Regions from separate parts of the Homo sapiens genome. Here region 2 is linked to region 1. Evidence: fine-mapped expression QTL. A gene starts in region 1. The other region holds a variant in brackets. All regions are shown on one strand. Distances are from middle to middle. Region 1 holds the start of PTAR1 (protein prenyltransferase alpha subunit repeat containing 1). Region 2 overlaps PTAR1 (protein prenyltransferase alpha subunit repeat containing 1).

What was found. PIP is the estimated chance that this variant, and not a neighbour inherited with it, causes the effect.
Region 2: its variant is the best candidate, but not a certain one, in a credible set for the expression of PTAR1 in whole blood (INTERVAL, PIP 0.87).

Annotation. Positions count from the first base shown.
Region 1 is chr9:69,756,425-69,764,806 of GRCh38, reverse strand. PTAR1 (protein prenyltransferase alpha subunit repeat containing 1) reads left to right here and starts at 4,796. Exons shown (of 8, transcript NM_001099666.2): 1 at 4,796-4,954. The coding sequence starts at 4,869. LOC105376076 (a long non-coding RNA gene) reads right to left here and starts at 4,712. Exons shown (of 4, transcript XR_929910.3): 1 at 4,334-4,712. RefSeq lists enhancers at 354-1,208, 1,209-2,064, 2,919-3,774, 5,249-5,298 and silencers at 2,440-2,734, 4,639-5,108.
Region 2 is chr9:69,733,148-69,741,529 of GRCh38, reverse strand. It overlaps PTAR1 (protein prenyltransferase alpha subunit repeat containing 1), which reads left to right. Exons shown (of 8, transcript NM_001099666.2): 4 at 7,276-7,380. Among named protein-coding and RNA genes, the nearest start is that of PTAR1, 23 kb to the left of the region's middle. The variant T/G (reference allele first, on the strand shown) is at 4,007.

The DNA.
Region 1 (8,382 bases):
TATATTACATACAATTTGTATGGTATATATGAAATTAGGATTATATTGTATTGTATTTGTATTTGGTACTTGTTTTGGTCATTACATATCCACATTTTCCTCTATCATCAATTAGTCTTCTAAAATAAGAAACGTGTGGTTTTTGGGAGTGGGTAGGAAGATTGTCAAAATATATTCACAACCATGTAAATGATAATAATAGACATGGTCACTTAAAAAAATCAATATATCTGTAAGAAAATTAGTATGCACATAATATATTTGGCTAATTAACAAACAAATATATCAGCTCCTTATTAATATATAATTTAAAAAACTTTTCTTAGGCCAGGTGCAGTGGCTCAAGCCTGTAATCCCAGCACTTTGGGAGGCCGAGGTGGGTGGTCAGGAGTTGAGGTCAGGAATTCGAGACCAGCCTGGCCAACATGGTGAAACCCAGTCTCTACTAAAAATAGAAAAATTAGCCAGGTGTGGTGGCGTGTGTCTGTAATACCAGCTACTCAGGAGGCTGACACAGGAGAATCGCTTGAACCTGTACCACTGCACTGCAGCCTGCACGACAGAGTGAGAATCCGTCTCAAAAAAAAAAAAATTCTTAAATTACAAATGTTACTTTGCTCTTTACATTACATAGTCAAATTGTCCTATGAAAATACCTCTAACACTTTGGTATATATTCCTCTAGTTATAATGTGATTTTCATGTGGGGAAAAGCAAGAGAGATCAGATTGTTACTGTGTCTGTGTAGAAAGAAGTAGACATAGGAGACTCCATTTTGTTATGTACTAGGAGAAATTCTTCTGCCTTGAGATCCTGTTAATCTATAACCTTACCCCCAACCCCGTGCTCTCTGAAACATGTGCTGTGTCAACTCAGAGTTGAATGGATTAAGGGCGGTGCAAGATGTGCTTTGTTAAACAGATGCTTGAAGGCAGCATGCTCGTTAAGAGTCATCACCACTCCCTAATCTCAAGTACCCAGGGACACAAAAACTGCGGAAGTCCGCAGGGACCTCTGCCTAGGAAAGCCAGGTATTGTCCAAGGTTTCTCCCCATGTGATAGTCTGAAATATGGCCTCGTGGGAAGGGAAAGACCTGACCGTCCCCCAGCCCGACACCCGTAAAGGGTCTGTGCTGAGGAGGATTAGTAAAAGAGGAAGGAATGCCTCTTGCAGTTGAGACAAGAGGAAGGCATCTGTCTCCTGCCTGTCCCTGGGCAATGGAATGTCTCGGTATAAAACCCGATTGTATGCTGCATCTACTGAGATAGGGAAAAACTGCCTTAGGGCTGGAGGTGGGACCTGCGGGCAGCAATACTGCTTTGTAAAGCATTGAGATGTTTATGTGTATGCATATCTAAAAGCACAGCACTTAATCCTTTACATTGTCTATGATGCAAAGACCTTTGTTCACGTGTTTGTCTGCTGACCCTCTCCCCACAATTGTCTTGTGACCCTGACACATCCCCCTCTTTGAGAAACACCCACAGATGATCAATAAATACTAAGGGAACTCAGAGGCTGGCGGGATCCTCCATATGCTGAACGCTGGTTCCCCGGGTCCCCTTATTTCTTTCTCTATACTTTGTCTCTGTGTCTTTTTCTTTTCCAAATCTCTCGTCCCACCTTACGAGAAACACCCACAAGTGTGTAGGGGCAACCCACCCCTACATTTTCAAATACTAAATAGCATCTTACCATATAAATTTATAATTTAATCAATCCCCTCTCATTGGGCATTTAAGTTATTTACTGTATTTTATTATCAATAAATGAACATAAATCTTGTAGTCCTTCGACAAAATCACGCTGAATTTATTATGCCCTATTCTTGTATACATATATATCATTATTGAGGATTTATGAATTTCAAATCTTAAATCCTTTGGACTTCTGTTTTCTTATCTGTAAAATTAGAGAGTTGGCTCAGAGTTCTAATTATGCTCCAATTCTAAAAAAAAAAACAAGTTCTAAACATAGTAGATTCTTAATAATTGGGGTAAAACAATTTGTGAATTCTTAGAGGAAACAAGATACAATGCATGCCTTTCAAATGACTATAAAGAGGTTGCATGTGGAGAGGGCATACACAGAATCATACAGAGGAATTCTGTTTCTGAAATAGCTGTTTTACATCAAAATTTGGGGACAAAGTTTTCTTTTTTCCCTGTTAAATAAAGCCTTTCGGGGAAAATCATTATTTCTGAGTGTGCTGCTTTGATCTCTGCCTCCAGAAATTGGGATTTATTTCCCACTGCCATTAGGATGCAAGGTCCTGATTAAGAAAACTTACTAAGTTTAAGAATTTTAATTTAAGAACTGGTCTTACATTCTTAATCAGGATATTTAAAGTTGTCTTTTGCCTTGAAATCTAAACACACATTCCACTCTTTTCACTGCTTCACTCCAGAACTTGTTATCGGTTAAATTTTGATTGATTTTACTAACTCTTTTTTTTTCTTTCTTTTTTTTTTTTTTTTTTTTTTGAGATGGCATTTCGCTTTTGTTGCCCAGGCTGGAGTGCAGGGCACAGTCTTGGCTTACTGCAACGTGCGTCTCCCGGGTTCAAGCGATTCTCCTGCCTCAGCCTCCCAAGTAGCTGGAGCTACAGGCATGCACCACGACGCCCAGCTAATTTTGTATTTTAAGTAGAGACGGGGTTTCACCCTGTTGGCCAGGCTGGTCTCAAACTCCTGATCTCAGGTATCCACCCGCCTCGGCCTCCCAAAGTGCTGGGATTACAGGCGTGAGACACCGTGCCCGGCCGACTTTACTAATTCTTAATCCTGTCCCACCTTGCTGGCTACAATTTTGTGAAACTTCTATCTCACTTCTTTTTTTTTTTTTTTAGATGGAGTCTTGCTCTGTCGCCAGGCTGGAGGGCAGTGGCGCGATCTCCACTCACTGCAACCTCCTACTTCCGCGTTCAAGCGCTTCTCCTGCCTCAGCCTCCCAAGTAGCTGGGATTACAAGCACGTGCCACCACGCCCAGCTAATTTTATATTTTTAGTAGAGACGGCGTTTCACTGTCTTGGCCACGATGGTCTCGAACTCCTGACCTCGTGATCCTTCCGCCTCTGCCTCCCAAAGTGCTGGGATTACAGGTGTAAGCCACCGTGCCCGGTCCTATCTCACTTCTTTTACAACCAGAAGGCTAACTCCAGCCTTTATAAACATACCCACAGGAAATACTGGCCACTGAGTATAGTAAATTTATATTTTTCGTTTATATTTCTCATTCACTTTACATGCAATAGATAGCTTTTACTTTTACAATCATAAAAACTACTTCAAACGCTCCGCATATGTTCACATTAAACACACCATGAGTTTATTTTTTTAATAGCTTTTTAAAGATACAGATTTCTTTTTTTTTTTTTTTGAGACAGAGTCTCGCTCTGTCGCCCAGGCCGGACTGCGGACTGCAGTGGCGCAATCTCGGCTCACTGCAAGCTCCGCTTCCCGGGTTCACGCCATTCTCCTGCCTCAGCCTCCCGAGTAGCTGGGACTACAGGCGCCCGCCACCGCGCCCAGCTAATTTTTTGTATTTTTAGTAGAGACGGGGTTTCACCTTGTTAGCCAGGATGGTCTCGATCTCCTGACCTCATGATCCACCCGCCTCGGCCTCCCAAGGTGCTGGGATTACAGGCGTGAGCCACCGCGCCCGGCCTTTTTTTAAAGACGGAGTCTCGCTCTGTCGCCCAGGCTGGAGTGCAGTGGGGAGTAGCTGGGATTACAGGCGCCCGCCACCACGCCCGGCTTTTTTTTTTTTTTTTTTTTTTTTGTATTTTTAGTAGAGACGGGGTTTCACCGTGTTAGCCAGGATGGTCTCGATCTCCTGACCTTGTGATCCGCCCGCCTTGGCCCCCCAAAGTGCTGGGATTACAGGCGTGAGCCACCGCACCTGGCCAGATTTCAAGGGTGGAAGAATAAAACTGAACCAAGGGCAGCCAGATTTTTCTACCAGAGGTGCAAAAGAAAACCTGATACACAAAAATTTTAGTTATGGCATTTCAAAATCCTAAATAAACTAGAAAGCTCGTTTTTCCTACAAAAATTTATTTTTGCTATTATGAACAAACCCTGTCAGAGCCTTGATCCTTTTTTTTAAATTCCAAAATTGACGCAAAGGCTACCAAATGCAGTACAAAATGAAGTCGAAAAATCTAAAAACGATTTCACTTCTACTTCCTACATACAGATGGCAAATAACTTTTCCTTCACTTTCCTTTCTCTTCCTTTAATAAATTTAAGAATTTTAATTAATGTTTTTTAAAAAGGCTGCTTTCAAGTTCAGAGACAAAAATTGGCACAGTTAGAAAGGAGGTCACCAACACGGTCAAATAGGGACTCGCTCCGCCGCAATGCCTCTGGACCTCTTCATCTCTCAGGCTGGGAAAATAAAGCAGACAAGCTCTGAAAAACGCCCGGGACTAACTGTTAAGAGGCCCTGCATCCTCAGTTGAACATTCCTTCAGGAATGCCCGGGGACCTTGCTGGGGGGGTTCAGGAAGGTGTCTGACTCTCTGGGAGTGTGTCTTGAGGTTTCGCCTAAAACTTAAAATAAGAAAATCGGAGGCCTGAGAGAACTTTGCAAACAAATGTCCAGCATCTTCTCTGACGCTTAGAAAGTCCGTTACCCGCGCGGAGGCGAACTTCTCCACTCACTGGAAGGCCACCAACCCTAGCTAACGCCACGCCCAGGCCGCCAACTGGCTGACCCGGAAGTGCTCGGCGGCGGCCGCGGCGGCGGGGACGCGGCCTAGCCGAAGCACCCGCGCGCGCGCGCGCGCGCTCGTTCTCCGCGGAACTCCCGCCGGCGGCCCGGCTCACGCGGAGGCGCGCCCGAACTGTCGCGGCCGCCGCCAACATGGCCGAGACCAGCGAGGAGGTGGCGGTGCTGGTGCAGCGGGTTGTGAAGGACATCACTAACGCCTTCAGGAGGAACCCACACATGTGAGTCGCGCGCCTCCGCCGCCTCCGAGGGTCGTCGGGAGCGGGCGGGGGCGGGGCCAAGCGTCCACCCGACCTCGGGCGGCGGGCGGACAGCGGGTCCTGGCCCACGAGCCCTTCTAGGGAGGAGGCAGAGCCGTGTCGGGCGGGACCGTTGTCGGCCGCCGCTGGCCCGGCTTTCCGCTACCGGGACGCGCTCGCGGTCGAGTCCCTAGAAGTGACCTCAAAAAATCAAAACGGAACTACTTTCTCTGTCCCTCCCCACCTTTTCATAGGAGTTCACGAAACTCCAGAGACGTCCCCCGTAGGTCGACATCCTTCCTGTGTTTAAGGTACTCGGGCGCACACAACGATGTGGGTCCGTGTATGCCTTGTAAACACAACTCTTGAGATTCATCCCGGACGTTGGCAAGAGGGGGTAACCGATCCTCTTACTTTTAATGAGCCTCAAACCCCTCAGTTTACTAACTAAAGGTGGTTTGAGGCTGCTTTTGACTTTAGCCTTACTTGCCACAAAATTGTAAAGTGACTCCGATAATACATTGTGTTTTGAAAGGTGAACAGAACATTCTCAAGAGAAGCTTCTGTGGGCGCAGTGTGGAGTCTGGGATAAAGCAAATGAAACCTTGATACTTTTTAGCATAAGCGGATTCATAGTTACAAGGAGCATGTTAACTCATTTTTATCCCAACACTGCTGCCCTCTTTAACGGGACACTGCAGAACTGACATATGTATCTCTTCCATTTTACTTGAAGTACTGTGGGAAGATACCGCAAGAGTCTACTTTTTGTAACACTTTGCTTTTATGTAACAAGTGAAAAGAAAGCTATTGAGAGAGAGAGAGAGATCTACATTATACAAAGGTGTAGGGAAGAAGCAACAATGTACCTCCTTTCCCATACCTCTTCCTCCTCAAAGAAAAGAAACATGGCATCCAGTTCTGCATTACTTTCATTTTAGCTAGTTGTTTTTGGAGTTTATTTTTTTTTTTTTTAGTTTATTATTTTTTATTATTATTTAATTTATTTTTATTTTATTCTTTAGACTGGAGCTCATGATTTTTTTTTTTAAGTATTCTAACCGGTTCAGCTTTTCTGCCTAAAAAAGTTGCCAAACGTGTATCTTACCAAAGTGTTCTTTTCCTCCAAGGTGATGATTGTAAAACAGTTAAGAAGCCGTTGGATGTTTTGCTCCCTTGTGGCACACAATTGGAGACGTGCAACTGTGCCACATTAAAAACAAAACACTGCTGGCCTCAAAACACACCTGCCACCTCTGACAGCATCCACTTCCCTCCCCCTTATGACTGCTGCCTTTTTCAAAATGAGAGTGTTTGGAATGATTTCCTGGCAGTATCCATAGTGGTTGCTGAGCCTTCTAAAGAATGCTTTGATGCCTTGCTGTATATCAGTCTTTCGATTTCTTTTTGAGAATGGGAGCCTTAGTGCAAGTAAGAGACGACCTCAAAAAAAAAAAAAGTTGGACAAATGAAGAGTGTATTTTCTCATCACTGGTATTTTTCTAGAAGAAATTACAGCAGAGATTAGAAATCTAATACAAAATGTCGTAATCATCTTATGTTCTCTTCTTTGAGGTAGACTAAAAGAGCATCATTATATTTGAAGAAACCAAGATTGAATGTTCATTGGCTTGGCAGTTTTTAACACAGTGCAGTTTGGAACATGTCCCAGTTCTTGTGGATCACATTTATGGAAACTCTTAAAGGACTTTAATGCCCCTCCCTAATCCTTTTTCTACTGTAAAACCTCATTAATATATCCTCAATGTATAATTTATTAGTAATAAGGATTTGGGTCATTCGAGATTTAAAACTTTGAGATAAGTTGGATATTCGGAATAATGTAATGATTTGTAATATAGGTCTTAAACATTTAAATAGCTTAACTCATTGTTTAAGACTAGTCATCAGCTATATTTGAATACATATTCCCCACAGTAAAACTATTTTCAATAATATTACTATGCATCTTTGTAAGTGCCTTATAATTTGGGCTTTTAAAAATTGCCTGCGCTTTCTTCCCTTAATTTAGCCCATTTACTCCCAAAATAAAGAGGCTGTGTTTCTTTTTTTTTTTTTAAGGCATTGTTTATCTGTAACGTTTGTATCTAACTTTACTGTATCTAATTACACTTTCAGTATTATACAAAAATTTTTTTGTTTTTCTTGTCCAAACTTAAGATCGGTTGTAATTTTATTGGCCAACATCTACTTCATTAAATACATTGACTTTGTTTATGTAGAAATATTTAGCCAGAAGGAGTTGAGGATGCAGTGGTGAGATGTGGATTTTGTTACTGTATGATGTGAATAGGTACCTTCTCTCAGCCTCAGTTTCCTCTTGATCTTGTGAGGCTGATGAAAACAGGAAAATCACCTCACACAGTGGTACTTAGTTGCCACTCAATAAATATTAGACCTTCCCTGAATCTCTGTGTTCCTCACCAAAAATATATTGGACAAATGATTGGTGAATATGAAGCACTTTATAAACCTGGATAATACTATATAAATGCTGTTTGTATGGTTGAGTATTAGATAATCATATTGGATTCTCTAAAACTGAAAACTTGACCTAGGGATAGTCTTTAACTTAGTGTATGGACCCTGTGCTAATGTAGAAGACAACAGTTTATAATGTAAACAGTCACGTTAAAATTAATCTTATCCAGCAAGTTATTGTTTTTTCTATTAAATATTGAACTCACTGTTTATGAAGTGTTGTGGGTACCATCTTTACTGTGTGAAATAGAAGTTTAAAATACAGTTCTTGAACCCAAGGCACTAACAGAAATTTCTGTAATGGTGGAAATTTTCTGTGTCTGTGCTGTTCCATATGGTAGCCACTAGCCATAGTAGCTATTGAGCAATTGAAGTGTCCCTAATATGAACAGGGACCACATTTTAAATTTTATTTAATTTAAATGGATTTGTACGTAGTGGCTCCATGTGCCTAGTGACTACTGTGATGCATAGTGCAGGTGTAGATGAGACCTAAGACTAACTGCATGAACAGTAAATTAACCCTCCAAAGTAGTTTATAGTAAAAGTTGGATAGGAGCATGATGAGCAAGTGCTATGGGAGTCTAATAGAAGTGGAGAGGAGGCTGGTTATGTCTCGGATAGGGGTGCTAGTGGAGGTGGGTTTTAAGCCAAGTATTAAAGTCTGGGTAGGATTTGTAGTCTCAGAGGGAGCCAGAGACCTCCACAGGGAGCAGTGAATTGACCTAAACAAGCAAAGTGTGGCTGAGAAGGTACAGTAGGGCCAGATTATGGAGATCCTTGACTCTCATTTAATTTCTTTCATTCCATTCATACATTCTGCAAAAGAGTACCTCCATTTGACAGGCACAATGCTGGTCTCTGGGTATACAGGGTTAAAAACTGGGTGGTTTAATGAACAAACCACA
Region 2 (8,382 bases), 23 kb after region 1:
TTTTTGGGGTGGGAGACTAATGGGCAATGGGCATAACTGGTTGGCTTATAAGGCATATAACATTATATCATTGGTATTTGAGAAGCACTGCAGTGTAGTGGAAAGTGTATGGGATGAGAAAGAGGGAGTCATGCTTGCCTCTGGCTTTTTCCCTGAGCAACTGAAAGGATGGAATTGCCATTTACTGAAATGGCAGTGTCTGGAAGAGAAACAGATTTAGGTAGGCGGTGTTTGTTATAGGCCAAGAGTTCAGATTGGGACATGTTAGATTTGTGTCCAAGTAGTTGTATATTAATTTAAAGTTCAGGAAAAAGGTCTGGGCCAGATGTAAACTTGGGAATTACTAACATATAGATGGTTTTAAAGCCATGAAACTGTTTTAAGATCCCCAAAAGTGTTGGCATAGCTAGAGACAAGAACCAGTTCAAAGACTGAGCCCTGAGACATTCTATTTTCTAGGGTTGCACAATCCAGTACAGTAGCCATTAGCCACATGTGGCTATTGAGCCCTTGAAATGTGATTAGTCTCAACTGAGATGTGTCCGAAGTGATAAACTGCACATCATATTTTGAAGACTACCTAGCAAAAAATGGAAATATCTCATTAATAATTTTTATATTACTTGCTGAAATTATTATATTTTGGATATATTGAATTAAATATATTTATACTTGTGTTTAATATAGCTGTTAGAACATTTTAAATCATATATGACTCGTATTTGTGACTCACATTATATTTCTATTGGACAGCACTGTTCTAGCATTTGCAAGATGAGGAAGAATCAGCAAAGGAGACTTTTAGGAAGGTACCATGAACTTAAAATTCAGAGCTTTTTTAAGGGCAGGGACCATGTCTTTTTTTTTTTTTTTTTCCCCTTTGTTTCCTTAGCATCTAACTCTAGTGCCGGTACATAATAGACATGCAGTTTGCAAATTGGGCACGGAAATCAAATTCAGTGAAAAAGAAATCAGAGTAATAGGGAAGTAGGAATGCCATTTTTCTTCATGTTCTTGTATTCCTCACCTATAGAGAGGAATTCAAAAGTCCTTCAACAAAAAAATTCTCACTAGCCTAGCATATATGCATAGATAGGTACATACACACACACACACACACCTGTATACATATGTGTATACACACGTGTTATTCATTGTATATTCTATAAGCCCGTTGAGCATAGGAGAAAAAAACCTAGGCCTAAGATTCATGGAACTTAGTCCTGTTTCATCATCCTCACCAATAGAGAGGAATTCAAAAATGCTTCAACAAAAAATGATCTCACTAGCATAGTGTATATACCTACATACATACATACACACACACACCTATATACATATATGTATACACACATGTTATTCATTGTATATCCTATAAACCAGTTGAGCATAGGAGAAAAAATCCTGGCCTTAAGATTCATGGAACTTAGTCCTGTTTCATAAGTTAACTAGCGGCTGACTTTGAGTATAACTTTTAATTATCAAGAGTTTTGGTTTTTTTATCTATGAAATAAAAGATTTGAATTAGGTGAATTTTTTTATGATTCTATTAAACTTTTAAAAAAATATGTCTGGTTGGTCTTATGAAGGGAAGTTGCTCCATAAATCTAACTTGAGGGATGTTTATGACAGTTAATCTTGAAAATTGTTCTAGTTAGATGATTAGTAAGGTTTTGTGCTAGATGAGTAGAAAGGGAATCTTGATTTTTAAAAAATCCTTTGTGGATATGTGTTCTAGTAAATTTTAATTCATATCAGTAAGATTGATTGACATAGAAAGACATCAAATCATAGGTACATTTTGAGCAACAAACTACCAACTTCAAAGTAAATTCTAACCCTATAAGGTCTCTATTGCGTATCAAATACACAGAACTTTATTTTTAATTGTTAGTGGATCTCTTCTGTACTAACCCTGGAAGGCATTGAGTGATTTTTTAATGCATTTTTCAAACTGCTAAAGAATAATGCAATAGACGTCTAGTTCAATTTGTGGGTATTGCAGTCTTAGGGGAAAGAAATAGAGGCAAAAATAAGTTTTTGAACTGATCTCCTGTAATTACAGTGAGTGATACACATAATTTAGAATTTCAGCTGTCTTTTTTTTTTTTAAAGAAAACTGCTTTTTTTTTTTGCTTTGGAAATTTGTGAATTACCTGATGAAAGAGGTTGACTTAGTAATAATGTCCTATTTTCTTCATCAGTCTATGTACTTAGAGTAAGCAAAACACCTTTGAGCAACTAGAATAGTTGATGCCAAACTCCAGTGATTCATGTTCTGAACTCATAGCCTATTGATTTAAATTGGTAACTTTATTTTGTGCAGATTTGATGTTTGGTTCTGACATTTTGAGCTAAGAAACCTGAGCAAGTTACTGAACTTCTCCAGGATTCAATTTCTTCATCTGTAAAATTGAGGTATTTGGCCGGGCATGGTGGCTCACGCCTGTAATCCCAGCACTTTGGGAGGCCAAGGTGGGTGGATCACGAGGTCAGGAGATCAAGACCATCCTGGCCAATATGGTGAAACCCCATCTCTACTAAAATACAAAAAATTAGCCGTGCGTGTCAGTGCACATGTGTAGTCCCAGCCACTCTGGAGGCTGAGGAAGGGGAATCGCTTGAACCTGGGAGGCGGAGGTTGCAGTGAGCCAAGAGCGTGCCACTGCACTCCAGCCTGGTGACAGAGCAAGACTCCGTCTCAAAAAAAAAAAAAAAAATTGAGGTGTTAGGGAAATTTTTTTTATATAGATAAAAAACAATTTAATTCTAGCACCCACATTGTGGTTTCTAATACCATTCTTTAATGATGTTAGAAATGGCTGATTCTAGGACCAGAGCAGGAAGTATACAAGATGAGCTTGGAGCATCTTATAGAGCCAGAAAGTAAGGAAGTATTCAAAAATATATGGTGGGATATGAAAAAGGGACATGGGGAGCAACTGAAAGAGCTTCCAGTGGCCATAGCTGGAATGATTTGAGCAACAAAATAAATAACATAGTATTGGATTATACCCCTATCCATCAGCCCACTGAAATGAATGAATGAATATATAAGTAAGAGACAATAGACAAATGTTCTGTTAATTTATCTAGATAATCCCCCTCTACAAGGTAGAGCATAACTCTGTATTTCTTAAGGTTGAGCTGTGCACCAAATAAAAAAATCAGTGACTTTCTTGCAAAAAGTAGTGAAGAAACCTGAACTCAGCCAGGTAATCCAGATTGATATCAACAATGCTAAGTCATGTTGATAGCACATGCCTCTGATATGATGCAGTGAAAATGTCACTTTACCTCTTTGGTCTTCCTCTCCAGAATCTGTAACTCCAGTTTAATGATGAGAAAAACATTATACAAAATACCTGACCCATATTCTCAAAACTGTCAAAGTCATCAAAAGCAAGGTAAATTTGAGTAGCCAAGAGGAGCATAAGGAGACATAACTACCAAATATAAGGGATCCTGGAGGGAACTTTAGAAGAGGAAAAGGACATTTGGTAGAAACTAAGGAATTCTAAATAAAGTATGGACTTTTAATAAAAATATATCAATATCAATACTGTTGCATAAATTTTGACAAAGGTACCATGGTAATATAAGATGTTAATAGCAGAGAAACTAGGTACAGGGCATATGGGAATTCTTTGTATTATCCTTACAACTTGTTTACGAACCTGAAACTATTGTAAAATAAAAAGTTTATTTTTAAAAAAAGATTGAGTATCAGCAATTTCATATGGCTCAATGATGATATTTACCTTACAGGATTGTTGTGAGAAATTATGTAACATATGTAAATCACTTTACACGGTTCTTGACTCAGAGGAAGTGTTCAATACATGGTAGTTTTTAATGAGGATGGCCATTATTATTGTCATTTCAGACAGAGTAAAGATTGAGAAAAGAAAAAGAGTAGTCAGTTTTATTCAAACACCTTACATGCCTCATTGACATCAGTGACTTTGTCATCACAAGACCTAGTTGTTTTTAGTTCTGTAGCACA[T/G]TTTTCCAGAGCCCATCATAGTATATCTAAGTTGTTTGAGCTACAGCACTTTTTGAATCTGTTTGTGAGTGGAAATTGTATCTCCAGTCAGATTCTTATTTGAATACATTAGAGCAGTTGATTTTTTTAAAATGTAGCTCTAAGGCCAGGTATGGTGGCTCACACCTGTAATCCCAGCACTTTGGGAGGCCGAGATGGGTGGATTGCTTGAGCTCAGAAGTTTGAGACCAGCCTGGGCAACATGGTGAGACCCTGTCTCCACCAAAAATACAAAAAATTAGCTAGACGTGGTTGTGTGTGCCTGTGGTCCCAGCTGCTTGGGAGGCTGAGGCAGGAGGATCACTTGAGCCCAGGAGGCAGAGATTTCAGTGAGCCAAGATTGTGCCACTGTACTCCAGCCTGGGCAAGACAGTGAGACCCCATCTAAAAAAAAATATATAGCACTAGATTATGTGATTGCTGTTAATGTTACCACATATCATATTTCCTCTTAAAGTGATTTTTGAAAAACTTGTTTCAGCAATATCCAACACCTACAAATGTTCAGTACTACCCCTAGCAATGTTTATTACATTGATATTAAAATTTTGCTTGATTCCATCAGGTGATCTTTTTCAGTGTCCATATATTAACATTGATTGAGGTTGTTTCAAGCTAAGATGTCTTCCCAAAAATGCTGCTTAATTCAAAATAAAGATATTAACGGAGTCCCCATTTTTTTCTTTTTCTTTTTTTAAAATTCTGTACCGCAGTGGTTGCAAAAGAGAGTGCCCATAATTTAAGAAACTTTGTCAAAACTCAGTTGTAGGGTAACTGCCTCTTTTTTGAAGAAAATTTTGATTATCTCCCCTTATATATGGATATATATGGGAATAAAGGTAGACAGTTATAAATAATAAGAGGTCTTAAATTTATGAAATGGAAATTAAGCATAATACAATAAATTCATTATAGTAGTTGTTTTTTAAACTTTAATGGGCATCATTATTGCCAGGCTGGAGTGCAGTGGCGCGATCTTGGCTCACTGCAACCTCTGCCTCCTGGGTTCAAGCGATTCTCCTGCCTCAGCCTCCCAAGTAGCTGGGACTACAGGTGCGTGCCACCATGCCCAGCTAATTTTTTTACTTTTAATAGAAACAAAGTTTCACCATGTTGGCCAGGATGGTCTCAATCTCTTGACCTCGTGATCCACCTGCCTCGGCCTCCCAAAGTGCTGGGATTACAGGCGTGAGCTACCGTGCCCAGCCAATGGGCATCATCTGAAGAGCTTGTTTTAAAACACATATTGCTGTGCCCACCTGAGTTTCTGACTCAGTTGGTTCTGGGCTGAGGCCTGAGGATCTGCATTTCGCATAAGTTCCAGATGATGCTGATGTTGCAGTCAGGGTTCACTTTGAGAAACATTGCTTTCAAACGTGGTTAAAATTACATAGAGCAATATTTTCCTCCTTTTACTTTATAGGTATCCTGACTTACTGTATGAACAAAATGTTACTGATTTCAGAAGAAAAATAATCCAAGACTGCAAAAGCAATTGGCTGTTGCAAGAAAAAAATATATATTTTATATATATATTATATATATATAATGACAAATTGGTTTCCTGAACATTGAAAGGAAAATAGTTGTTTTCTTTATCAAATAAAACTTTATAAATAGTATGTCACTGTTGGAAAGAAAATGTATTGTGGTATTTAGGAATTAAGTCCGTCTAAGTAGATATGGTATAAGAGCTGGATTCTGGTTTTCTCTGGCTTAAACTTCTCTAAAATAAATGAATAATCAGCCCTACACAGGAAGGACATTTTAAGATAAATAATAACAAATGATCTGATTTTATTATAAAATTATAGATACATTGAGAATTCAGTGAGAGTGTAATATCAGCACTTATCAAAAACTTACCTGAGAAATTAAATGTAAATTGTATTTACCTGAGAAACAGGTATAGAAAGCTCTTGCATGACATTCTTTATATAGTTGGCCCTCTGTATCTGTAGGTTCTGCATCCATGGATTCAACCAACCGCAGATAGAAAATATTTGGGGAAAAAATTGCTTTCTGTAGCGAACATGTTCAGACTTTGTTTTCCTATCATTAGTCCCTGAATAATGTAACAACTATTTATATAGCATTTACATTGTATTAGGTATTATAAGTAATCTAGAGATGATATGAAGTATATGGGAGGATGTGTGTAGGTTATATGGCAACACATTTTATATCAAGGACTTGAGCATTCGCAGATTTTGGTATCCTTGGGAGGTCCTGAACCAAGCCCCCACAAGATACCAAGGGACAACTGATTGCATTGAAGCTTTGGTTGGGCTTGAACAGTTTTAAAAACAACCAAAACATTACATTGCTATTACTTCTGCTGCTTATATTAATATTTTAAAAAGGAATGGCCTCGTATATCAAGGGTCATGTAAGTATTTTACCTTGTTAATAGCTCTTTTGGAAACTTATCCAAAGTAAGAATACAAAAGAAAGAAGTTATAAGCACAAAGCTTCCCCTGCCCAGATTTGTTTTAAAATAACAAAAAGTTTGACGCAACCTAAATGTCTAACAAGAAGGGAAAAGCATAGCTTCTAAATGAAAACTAATTTGATCATTTAAAATGTTCATTACAAAGATTATATAGAATCATGGGGAAATTCTTAAGATATAATGAGAGCAGGATGTAAAATTATATGTTAAAATGTATGTGTGATAGGGAAAAGTAGAAGGGAAAATTCAAAAATAAAAAATAGTAATTTGGTTAGAATAGTGATTCCATGAATGATTTTTTTTTCCCTTACATCTCAACCATATTGTGTTTGTTGTATGTGTGGTTTTGTAATGAAATAGACCATGTCAAGTCCTATTTAGGAAACTAGACCAATTTTGGCTGGTATTGGATTGGCCCTATAGGTACGATATCAGGTCTCACAACTTTTGGAAATGAGATAGGCCAGAAAACCCCATTTACCCTCACGCAAATAGTTAAGATTTAAAAATCGTTAAAATCTGTTGATTTAAGAGCTTCTCTTTCTGCTTATTAGTTTGTTATATTGGGATTATGAGAATACATTCTTGATTACTGCATGTCACATTTATGAGTGTTTTATATCCCAGAGTGGCTTGGGCTTTTTTTCTTTCTTTTTTTGTTTTAAAATTCTTAGACATTCGCTTCACAATGAGATTATATTAAAAGCCATGTAGAACCTTTGGATATAAGGATAAAGTAATGTTTAATTTTTTTTTTTTTTTTTTTTTTTTTTTACAGGAAAGAGCTGATCCTCTCTGGCACTTTAAATCCAATTAAGGATTTACATCTGGGAAAACTCGCCTTAACCAAGTTTCCAAAGAGTCCAGAAACATGGATTCACAGGTGTGGTTAATTTACAACATAGTACTCTTACTTAGGATTCAGACTGGCTGGAGAAAGAAACATGACATGTGAGAGGCAAGGTTACTTATTGGTTCCAGAGCATGAATTCTGAAGTCAGGTTACCTACATTTAAATCTAGGAGCTATATAACTTGCTACCTAAGTGTTCATGGGAAATTACTTAACTCACCAAGCCTCAGTTTTCTCATTTGTAAAATGAGAATAATAATTACACCTGTCTCATATAGTTAACAGTCAAGTTTACGTGAGTTAATGCATGTAACACTCCCACAGTGCCTGGCACATATTAAATACTCAATAAATGTTAGCTATTATTAACTCTTTGAAGCAGTTGTGGGCATTGCATTTATAGATACTCAACTGTAATGAGCAATATGGATTTTAAAAGCATTTGGTTGTTTTCCTGGTAAAGATGTTGGTGGTGATGGTTGTGGTTATTAAAATTAACTTACAGAGAAAGCTGAGGGCAGCTGAAGCGAATGCTGTGTAGGCTGAGCTAAAGTTGCTAAAATCCATACATACAAAGAACATTTTTAGGTTAAAAGCATGGGACAGATAGCCAGAATGCACTTTAGGACTCTCAAAATCCTGGCCACCTGGAACCATCTTCCTCTTGGACCCTGTGTAACTACTCTTATTTGACCAAAATGGGATGGTGTGGGCTTGCTAGTCAGGACCAATGAAGAAGTCACTCTGAAATTCTCAGTTTATTAAGCCACTCTAATTTTTCTTAAATCGTGGGCATTTTTAGGATCTTATGTCCGTTCCAGGTGTCTTAGTGGTAATCGTGCCTTTAGTTAACATTGCAGGTCAGCTTCTTCCAAACCACATAGTCAGTTATATTTTCTTCATCACCAGAAATTGAGATAGTATACCACAGAAGGGTATATGACTGTGTGTATGGGGGTTTGGAAAGGGATGGTGGCAGGGGAAAGGAACTGTTAAATATGCATCCATCAGTTTGGCTTGTCTAATTTTTTTT